3 linked regions of the Homo sapiens genome follow. The protein of the gene in region 1 interacts with the protein of each later gene in a biochemical or structural test. Each region holds a gene or a part of one and is shown in the gene's direction. Other genes may lie near its edges.

Region 1 (3,653 bases):
ATTACTAATATAGGGAAATCCAAGAGATATTTTCATCTCCTGCTTGTCTAACTGGAAGTTTTTTAAGGAAAAGGTAATATATGTAATAAATTAATTGTATTAAATTGTATTAAGAGTACCGTGAAAGAGGATAAAAAAATGATTGGAGAGTAAAATAGCTGTGTGTTCATCCCTTTTTAAAAATTTTTTTTAACAAAAGTAAATATATGTTTGCTGTAGAAAATGTCAAAAATACACACAATAAAAAGAAAGTGAAAATCTTCCATAATCCATCACTTAAGAGTAATAGCTAGCACTTACGTATATGATTATATTTTTTCATGCAAATGTATTCTTTTAAAAAAAATGAGATCATACTGGTTCTTTGTTTTTTTCTTTTTTTTTTTGAGACAGGGTCTTGCCCTGTCGTTGCCCATGCTTTAATGCAGTTCTGTGATCTTGGCTCATTGTAACCTCTGCCTCCTAGGCTCAAGCAGTCCTCCCACCTCAGCCTGAGTAGCTGGGGCTTCAGACACATGGCACTACACCCAGCTAATTTTTGTATTTTTTTGTAGAGCCAGAGTTTTACCATGTTGGCCAGGCTGGTCTCGAACTCCTGAGCTCAGGCAATCTACCAGCCTTGGCCTCCCCAAGTGCTGGGATTTCAGGTGTAAGCCACCATGCCCAGCTGGATCATATTGTTTATACATTGTTTTCTACCTAATATTTGCCCATTTTACATTTTATTCTATCTTTTTTGGTAATTTTTTTTTTTTTGAGACAAGGTCTCACTCCATCACCCAGGCTGGAGTTACAGCATCTTGGTTCTTGGGCTCAAGCATCATCAAACTCTTGGGCTCAAGCAAAACTCCCACCTTAGCCTTCCACGTAGCTGGGACTACAGGCACGTGCCACCACCTCCTGCTAATTTTTTAGCTTTTGTAAAGACAGCAGCTTTGCTATGTTGCCCAGGCTGGTCTTGAACTCCTGGCCTCAAGCAGTCCTCCCACCTCAGCCTCCTGGTGTTGGGATTATAGGTGTGAGCTACCGCACCCAGCCGGTAACATAATTTAATGGCTGCATGACCTTCCATTAGAAGGTCTTCCATGAGAAGATACTTAAACATTTCATTAATAACTTTATATTGAAGTACTAAGAAATTATTGGTCAGAAGCCCTCTCTTTTGGTTCCCACTTTTCAGTCCATTTAACGGGAAGAAATGGATGTATTTTTTAGAAATGGGAAAAATGTTTATCTTTTTTCTGTCTTCCTTCCTTCCTTCCTGTGGTCAGTCCTTTCTTCCTTCCTTCCTTCCTTCGAAAAACCTTTATCTTTTTTCTATGGCCCGCCCTTCTTCCCTCCCTTCTTTCCTCCCTCCCTCCCTCCCTCCTTCCCTTCCTTCTTTCTTTTCTTTTTTTCTTTCTTTCTTTTTCTGAGGCAGGATCTTGCTCTGTCACCCAGGCTGGAGTACAGTGGCATGTTCACAACTCACTGCAGCCTTGATCTCTCAAGCTCAAGCGATTATCCTGTCTCAGCCTCCCTCTGTGGCTATTTTTTTTAAACTGGGAAATATTAATTTTTTTAATCTATTACAGATAAGACAGCATCTGAGTTAAAGTCTTATGGTATATACAGTTAAAGCAGCCTTGATATTTTTTGGTATTTTAGAAAAAATCATGTTTACTACATTGCATTTGGATTTAGACAATTTATTATAGTTACACACTTGAGAAAAAAGGTAATTTTGTTGAAATGGGGCAAGCTCTAGAAGAAACTTTGCATCTAGGGAGATAATCTAACAAAATACTTAATTTATCTTTCTTCTACAGAAGAACTACAGAAATGATGCCTGTTTATTTGGACTTAAATAAAGCAAGAAACATCTTCAAGGAGTTAACCCAAAAGGACTGGATTACTAACATGGTATCTTCAGATTGTTATGTGGAGAAAGAAAATACACCAGAATATTTCTTAAAAGAACTCAAAATTTCAGAAGAAATGTTTTGTGTTAAGGGATTCTCCGAGACCTTGTAGCATATTCAGATTAAGTTAAACTCAGATAACATTTAGGAGTTTGCCCTTTTAGGGTGAAATAGTTGGCATAGTAGTCACACAGGTTACAGATATTCTAAATAGTGTGTCTGTACACAAACACACATACACATATATGCATACACATTCGTAGAGGGAAGTTTTTCAACTCAGGGCTTTAGGAAGATGATTAAGGATTTGTTGAGATTGGTACACTAGAATAAGAACATTTTATATGCAAAGCATAAATGTAGAAATGAGAACATTTTTTCTGATATGAATATCCCTCTCACCAGGGACTGCCTGGATTCTTTTTTTTTTTTTTTTTCCATTCTACTTTTCTGTAGATTCTAGAATGTTCTTGTTCCTTATGGGATGATTGTTTCCTGTTTCAGCACTGTTACTGCTATCTTTAGGTTTTCTTTTTGCAGGTGCTCCAAACATGCTTCCTTTATTTTTATTTTTATTTTTTTGGAAACGGAGTCTCGCTTTGTTGCCCAGGCTGGAGTCCAGTGGTGCGATCTCGGCTTACTGCATGCTTCGTTTATTAATTTAGTTTTTCTTAATGTAGTTTTTATTATTTCCCTATTTTATTTTACTGGTTGATATGGGGATACTACTTTCTGTTCTACTCTCCATTTTTTTCTCTCTGGGTCGCACTGTAGTTCCTTCTTTCTTTCTCTCTCCTTCCCTCCTCCCCTCCTTCCTCCCTCTAGCCTCACCCCATTTTTTAATCTCTCTCTGTGTTCATATCCCTCTTCTCTTTCCCTCTCAATCTTTGATCTCTCACCCTTCCTCCTTTCAGCTCCCGCACTTGCTCTGTTTGCCACAACTAGCATTTTCTATTTCAGCTGCAAGTTTTCTCATTCGCTCCTTTCTTTCAAGGAAAGATGGAAAGTTCAGTTCTCTTAACTTTGGCAGAACCACAGCCCCACTGGGGGTCCGAGGTGAAATGGTTCCCTAATTATGTACCTTTATTGGGACCCTACAACACTTAGTGCTGCCTGTATCAACAACCCAGAAACTACTCAGTGGACTATTTCATCAACATTTGTTAGAGCTCATTTTCTTTTGTTTTCTAAAATCCTCCTGTGGGGGCCAGTTTAACTTTCTTTCTGTAAGATTCTGAGTCATTGCTACTAAATACAACCATGGAAAGATTACCAAAAATAGAAGCCCTTTTGTGCGTCTGTGAAGGGAAGGGATTGGATCAGTTCATCATTAAGGGCTCCTTCTGTTTACTAATTATACCTTGATTGTGCCACAAAAAGAACATATGGTATGTAAATGAAATAATCATAGGGCATCCTTGACCTCCATTGTTTCAGAATAAGATGATTGGATTAGAAGACCTGTAATGTTTCTTTCTATCTTGAGGTTCTGCGATACGGACTCTCAGACCTTTGGCATGTGTTCATTTATTCAGCAAACATTTGAATACTTGCTGTGTGCTGGGCACTGTAATGATGACTCGATGAAGAATAAAAGAGACATACTCCCTGTGCTTTAGAAGCTCATGGTGTAGTAAGGGAGACAGATACATACATGCATACATCAGTGCAAAGACCTGGTGTGTTTTACACTTCACTGTCTTCGCTAGTGCCTGGCTTAGAATGTAGCCTGTGTGCAATATTTTTGGATGA
Region 2 (3,653 bases), on another chromosome or scaffold:
AGAGAGTAGGAAAAACATTTTGATTCTTCCAATCTCATAGAAACCCAGATGCCCTTCAGTGGGTAAATGGGTAAACAAATTGGTACATCTATTACTGTTTGGTTCTTAGTCTTATTTGGAGAAAGAATTCTGCCAAGCTACTGGTTTAGCCAGAGAAAGAGAATTCATTGAAGGAAAATACAGAGTAGGGAGTTTATCTAGAGAGACAGTACACTCTGAAAAGATGAGGCAGGGCGAGCTGCTGAAAGAGAGTGAGCCAGCAGCACCCCGAGAGTGGTGGGTTTTTATGATTTCAGATTTTTTCTTGAAGTTCCTGCCTCTTTCTTAAGTCTCCGCCTTTTTACTTTGTTTAGTTTTCTGCATCTGCCTTAAGTCCCTGCCTTTTCCCTCACCTAGTTCCCGCCCCAAGGTTGTGGGACCCTCCCTTACTATTGGTGTGCACGCGTGAACCCGATGTTGGACACAAATTGCTTCTGCGTATCTCTTAGGAATTTTCTCCTTTGCCCTCTTCCCTTTAGCATGCATCTAGCTACATTCTGGCAGGTTAACTGGCAGAGTGAGCAATCACTGGGGTCTTAAGGGGGATTCCTTTCTGCCTAGGTATTTCCCCTCCTGTCTGTTCATATCTAGCACGCCTGTTTGGGGTGATCCCTGGGGCATGAGATTTTCCAGACTCCTTTTCTCAGGGCAGCCCTTCTCCTCCTCATGTCTGTTTATCTGCCTATTCTACCACATCTATGCCGTGGAATACTACTCATCAGTAAGAAAGGAACAAATTATTGACACGTGCAACAGCTTGGATGGATCTTAAGGGAATTGTGCAGAGTGAAAAGAACCAATTTCAATTGGTTACCTACTATACGATTCCATTTATATAGCGTTCTTGAAATGACAAAGTTGTGGAGATGAGGACAGAGTTGTAGTTGCCAGGAATTGAAGTAAAGGGAGAAGGCAACTATGGCTATCGCAGGGTACCATGAAGAATGTTTGTGATAGAGTTGTTTGTGTGTTGACTGGTGGTATTCACACAAATCTATACATGTGATAAAATTACATAGAACTAAATATACTTAATATGCATGAGTGCACATAAAAATGAAACTGGAAAAGGTCAGTGGACTGTATTAATGTCAGTTTCCTGCAGTATACTGTAGTTATACAGGATGTTTTCATTGGGGAAAATTGAGTGAAAAATACATGGGATCTCTTTATTTCTTACAACTGTACATGAATCTACAATTATCCCAGAATTATAAATTTTTAACGAAAGAACAGAGGCATTGATGCTGAGAGACAAACCGTAGGCTTTTGGATCAGCACAATTGTGTTCAAATTCTGGCTTCCACTTACCACTTGTGGGATCTTGAGCCAGTTCTTTAACCTCCCTTTGCCTTAGTTTCATCATTTTTCAAGTGGTTGCCAATAATATTATTTTCCCTATTGAGTTGTTTTGAGGGTTAATTATCAATATTATGTAAGCCACTCATTGGTTAAATTGGGATCGTAAAAATATTTTATCTTTTCATTTAGCACTTAAAGGGATAGGCACTCTGCCTTCTCCAGAGAAATTTTAATATCACGAGATAGTCTCTGTTTCATTAACTTAGGCTAGTGTCTTTATTTCTTCTTTCATGGAGTTTACTCTGTTGTTCTTTTACTACCTTCCTGAGTTGGACACTTAACTCATTAAATATCTGTCTTCCTTCCTAATGTATGTGTTTGAAACTGTAGATTTCTCTTTTACAACTGTTTTAGCTGAGTCACAAAATTTTGATATTGGCAACCCAATATTTTCATTGTCATTCAGCAATAATAGTAACTGATTTTTTTCTTTGATCCAAGAATTATTTGAAAATGAGTTTTTCAGTTTCCAAACATATGATAGGGGGATCTTTTATATGTAGATTCTGACTTTACATTATGGTCTTAATAATGTCAATTCTTTGAAATATGTAAAGCTTCTTTTGTGGCTTAGCATGGGATCAGTTTTTACAAATGTTTCTTAAATGTTCCTTAATCATTAAGTGTAGGATTGTGTCTTCATTCACTCCCTTGATTTTGTTTATCCAATTGTTCAGATCTCCAATATCCTTACTAATCTTTAGTCTGGTTGACCTATCAGTTACTGTGGTGAAAATGTCCCTCTTTGATTATAGCTATGTCATTTTCTCCTTATAATTTTGCACATTTTTACTTTGTATACTTTTGGCTATATTGTTAGATACAGCACATTCAGAATTGTTACTGTTTTCTTGATGAGTTGTTTATTTTATCAGTAACGTTCTTTGTTTCTAACAATGCTTTTTCCCTTAAACATATTTTGATCTGATAATATAGTCATTTAAGCTGTTTTTGTTAGCTAGTGTTTACACAGTATATGTATCTAGGATTTAGAATTCTCAGGAAAAACATTTCTCTTCTCATTCTAGAGCCCACGCTTTCTTTGGTAAGTTTCTTTGCTATCTCTGTCATAAGGCATATCTTTTCAAGTCCATGCATTTACTGAAAGACTAGCCATTCGAGTTTCCTAATTGATATAAGGGCGCTCAATTCTAAATTCTTGCAACATACAGGCCTAAGATTTCATCTTCTTTTTCCATGAGGGCATCAAAACCCAAACCTCCACTTTATTAAGACTGAGTACCATCTTTTACTCCCTTCCCTCTTCCCAAAACCCCACCCATGGCAGGTGCAGTCTCAGCTTGTTGCGCTTACTATAATTTTTGGTTTTTAATTCTGGGCTCTGGGAATTCCCCTTACAGATTTTGCTATGCATTTTAAAGAATGTTGGTTATATTTTCTTCAACATTTCTAGGCATTTAAGATGTGTATGTAGGTGTCATGGATTATCTGGTCTGGCATGATGCTAGAAGGGCAGTTCTCATTAGAAGTACTAATTTAACCTGAGAATGATGTCTCTTGTTCGACAACCACATAAGTCTCTAGATTTGCCCTTTCTGAGACTTCGCATCATGTAAATTACATAAATCTGGTGTTTGACTGGATGCTGGATGCCCTGGTGGAGTGGCAGCACCTGCAGAGATCTGCATGTGTGTTTTTCTTGGTTCAGAGCTATTTTGAACATAGGGTACCAAAAGACTGTCTTTAGAACCCTGAGATTTTTGTATATTTCAACTTAAAATTTAAGAACATTTATGAACATAATATTAATCAATAATATTCACATCTTATTGCCGTTTACATAACACTTTTATTAAACAGTTTTAGTAGTTATAAAACTGATTTGCACTTAATTATTTTCGTAGTTATAAAACTGATTTGCACTTAATTATTTTCAGTTGAAGTGTTTTACAAATGATATGGTCATGTTTCACAATTACATGTAAGCAGCATACAGTGGTGATCTAGCTATCACAGGGCAAAGGTAGGATGCACTAATATTACGTTTTAAAAATAAAATTTAAGAAGGAAAAGGTTTCTAAATTACAGCTAATTGTAACTAGTAATATAACTAAAATAGTAAATTGTAACTACTATAATTATACTAATATAGTTCTATGAACTGGGCATGTTATTTATATAAATGCCTTAGTTTATGTTTTAAAACTGTGTTATAGGCCGGGTATGTTGGCTTACACCTGTAATCCTAGCACTTTGGGAGGCCAAGGCAGGCGGATGACTTGAGGTCAGGA
Region 3 (3,653 bases), on another chromosome or scaffold:
GTGGGCTCGACTCTCAAGCCTCAGTTTTCTCATCTGTGAAATGGGAATGTATCCTCCCTGATCTCCCAGGGTGGTTGAGAGGATTGAGAGAGAGAACTGGGGTAAACCACTTAGGTCGCCCAGGGCCTGGCACAGGTAGGCGCTTAGTCAGCATCTTAGCATCTTGCCGAGTACGTGGTCTGGCTGTGACCCAGGTAAGTGAGCCTTCCTCTCCGTCTCCGTCTCTGTAACACGTGCATGTCAACATGAGCCCTCAGTCCCTTATCTGAAGTCCCCAGGCTGGATGTGGTTTTTTGTTTTTGTTGTGCGACGGAGTCTTGCTCTGTTGCCCAGGCTGGAGTGCAGTGGCACGGATCTCAGCTCACTGCAACCTCCGCCTCCTGGATTCAGGTGATTCTGATGCTTCAGCCTCCTGAGTAGCTGGTACAGGCATGTGCCACGATGCCCAGCTAATTTTTGTAATTTTAGTAGAGACGGGGTTTCACCACGTTGGCCAGGCTGGTCTGAAACTCCTGACCTCAAGTGATCCGCCCGCCTGGTCCTCCCGAAGTGCTGGGATTACAGGTGTAAGCCACTGCGCGCAGCCATTTGTTTTGGAATTCAGAATTTTCCAGCCTTTAGAGACAAGGCCTATGCTGTGTGGTGTGTGATGCCCACAGTGGGGTCTGGGCAGCTCCCCCGAGTCAAACTCCCATTTCGGCAGTAAAAGATTGGGAAGCATCACACTAAGGAGTAAGTCAGGCCTCTGGAGAGACTCGGGGCAGGGCAGGTTTTGCTGCTTCATGAGTTTGTGCCAAACTTGAAAAAGAAATGTGTTCAGAGCTTTTGGCTTTTGGAGTTGCCTGTCAGAGGTTGTGGACCGGTAATGACCCCCACTGCATGGTGGTTGTGTGAGGTTGCCGGCTGGTGGGATGCCCGCCGGCATGGCGAGGGGTGTTCTTCGGGATCCGGCTGGCCCAGGGCCTGGGGCTGGCTAGAGTGTAGCTGCTGTTGGAGAGTGTGGACAGACTCGGGTCCGGTTCCATCTTTGCCACCTGTTTGCTGTGTGACCTTGGGCAGGCAACTCACCTTCTCTGAGCCCAGGTCATTTGTGCAATGCAGATAACAGGGTTGCTGAGGGTTCATTCAATGACACTGTGTTTATAAAAAGTTTAGAGCAGACTGGGTGTGGTGGCTCATGCTTGTAATCCCAGCACTCTGGGAGGCCAAGGCGGGATGGTCACTTGAGGCCAGGTGTTCAAGATCAGCCTGGGCAACATGGTGACACCCTGTCTCTCTTTAAAAAAAAAAAAAAAAAAAGCTTAGAACAGCACCAGCAGGTGGTCAGCACTCACGCTGGAGCAGTTGCTGCTGCCTCGCTTATCGTGACCTCTGTTGCTCTCCAGATCATCGGCCGTGGCAATGACCAGGTGGCCATCAGCTCCAAATTTGAGACCCGGGAGGATATTGGTATGCTGCCAGTGGGGCTGGTTTCTGTGGGTTCCAAGAGGGGAGGTGTATCAGTCAGGTGGGCTGAGTCATGCTGCTGTAACAAATATCCCTGGCCTTAGTTGCTCAGCCCAGAGTTTCCTTCTTGCCCGTGGTACACGTCCACTGTGAGCTGGTAGGGGCCTGCCCTGTGTCTCCTCACCTGGGAACCTCCACCGCTGGGTGTGTCAGAGGCAGCATAATGTGACAGGTGGGATCACAGTGGTCACAGTGTATTGTGCACTGGTTCCTAAGGGTGCTCCCCTGGAAGTGACACATGGCCTTTTTTTGAGACAGAGTCTTGCTCTGTTGCCTAGGCTGGAGTGCAGTGGCATGATCTCGGCTCACTGCAGTCTCTGCCTTGCGGGTTCAAGCGATTCTCATGCCTCAGCCTCCCGAGTAGCTGGGATTACAGGCCTCTGCCGCCACGCTGGGCTAATTTTTGTATTTTTAGTAGAGATGGGGTTTCGCCATGTTGGCCAGGCTGATCTCAAACTCCTGACTTCAGATGATCCACCCGCCTCGGCCTCCCAAAGTGCTGGGATTACAGGCGTGAGCCACAGCGCCCGGCCCCTTCTGCACTCATTTCATTGGCCATGGCAAATCACATAGCCAGGTGTGACTTCAGGAAGTGGCAAGGCGGGTCCTCAGACACGCCCGGGAGGAGGAGGAGGGGGATATGTGTGAAAAGCCTGACAGGCAGCCTCAGTGGGGTTTCCAGAAACTCCTAGTTCTAAGACAGAGAAGGGAGGAGGACCTGGGCCAGGAGAGGGCCCAACCTCTGACCCCTTGCAGCTGTGATCCGGAACTATGGGAACCTCCTGCTGGAGATGTCCGCTGTGGTCCCTGATGGCATCGTGGCCTTCTTCACCAGCTACCAGTACATGGAGAGCACCGTGGCCTCCTGGTATGAGCAGGTACGCCTGGCCACCCCCTCCCTGCACCTGCTCTCCTCAGTCCCTGGCACTGCACCGCTATGTCAGCTTCATTCCTCTCACACTCTGATGGTGACAGGTTTCCTGTGTGACAGGAGAGTGTGTGCAGCATGTAGGAATGGGGTGTAAGCAGCACACACCCCCATGCCCCGCCCCCAGTACATCAGGCTGAGAATGCAGATATAAGCCCCAATGTGGGCCCCTCCCTCAGAGGAGTACCCTGTGGCAGAGTCACCCCCACGTTCTAGGTTCCTTGCTTCTCTGCTGCTTTTGGGGTTACCCATCCCTGTTATCCTCCAGCACAGATGGCCTGGTGGGGAGGCCCAGATAGCAGGCGTGGCTCTAGCTGGGTTAGAGGAATTCTAGAGAATTAAGGCTGGACCAAGACTCGGGGCGAGCCTCTCAAGGGTCTGCAGGAGCCCCTTCAGGGAAGCAGCTAGAGGAGGTCGTGGGGCATTCTGGAAACAGGGCTCACCACAGCCAGGCCCTGGGTGACCAGCAGGACATGGGTGGGAGGGGAGGCCACTCTGCACTTTGTGCCTCTGAGCACACCATGGCCGGGCTCTCAGGAGTGGGTGAAAGCACTTTGGGGTGAGGTGAGTGAACTTGGCTAATCCAGGTATTGGAAAGGCACGCATGGGAGGCGGGAACGTCATCCTCACAGCCAGGACATCGGCCTTGTGCTTCAATAGGCGGCTTCCACGCGGCGGGAAAGGTGACCCAGTCCCCACAGCGCAGGTGCCTTTTGTGTCCTACTTAAGACACCTTTGCCTACCCCAAGGTCATAGAGAGAGGCTCCTTTGTTTCCTTCTAGGAGCTTGTGGTTTTAGCTTTCACATCCAGGTCTATGAGGTACCTCAAATTCATCTTTCTATGTGGTGTGAAGTAGGGGGTCAAGGTTCATTTTTTGGTTCCATTTGAAAATCCACTTGCTCCAGTAAAAGCTCTCCCCACTGAACTGCACAGGTGGCTGTGTGTTTCTGGACTCTCCATTCTGTCCCAGTGGTCTGTCCTTGCATTGGCTCCACACTGTCTCTATTGTAGTGTCATATGGGAAGTCTCAGGGCAGCCTCTGATTGGCTCTGCCTGCCTCACAGTCAGCCCCTCCACCAATCGCTGGCAGGGGTTGGGGTGCCCTGATTGGCCACCCGCTTGGGCCACATGCCTGCCCCACTTATCCAGCAATGATTGGTTCCCCACCCAGATCACTGTTTCCCCAAAGAACTGAGGTTGGACAATTCCACCCTCCCT

What was found.
Region 2: the proteins of HERC5 (region 1) and UBE2E2 form a complex in vitro, tested with the Homo sapiens proteins (one study listed by BioGRID).
Region 3: the proteins of HERC5 (region 1) and ERCC2 form a complex in vitro, tested with the Homo sapiens proteins (one study listed by BioGRID).

What each region holds. Positions count from the first base shown.
Region 1 is NC_000004.12:88,470,601-88,474,253, forward strand, and holds part of HERC5 (E3 ISG15--protein ligase HERC5), read left to right. Parts: intron 1-13; coding exon 14-73; intron 74-1,808; coding exon 1,809-1,902; intron 1,903-3,653.
Region 2 is NC_000003.12:23,528,203-23,531,855, forward strand, and holds part of UBE2E2 (ubiquitin-conjugating enzyme E2 E2), read left to right. Parts: intron 1-3,653.
Region 3 is NC_000019.10:45,353,461-45,357,113, reverse strand, and holds part of ERCC2 (general transcription and DNA repair factor IIH helicase subunit XPD), read left to right. Parts: intron 1-1,385; coding exon 1,386-1,449; intron 1,450-2,262; coding exon 2,263-2,384; intron 2,385-3,653. UniProt on the Homo sapiens protein: ATP-dependent 5'-3' DNA helicase. Component of the general transcription and DNA repair factor IIH (TFIIH) core complex, not absolutely essential for minimal transcription in vitro.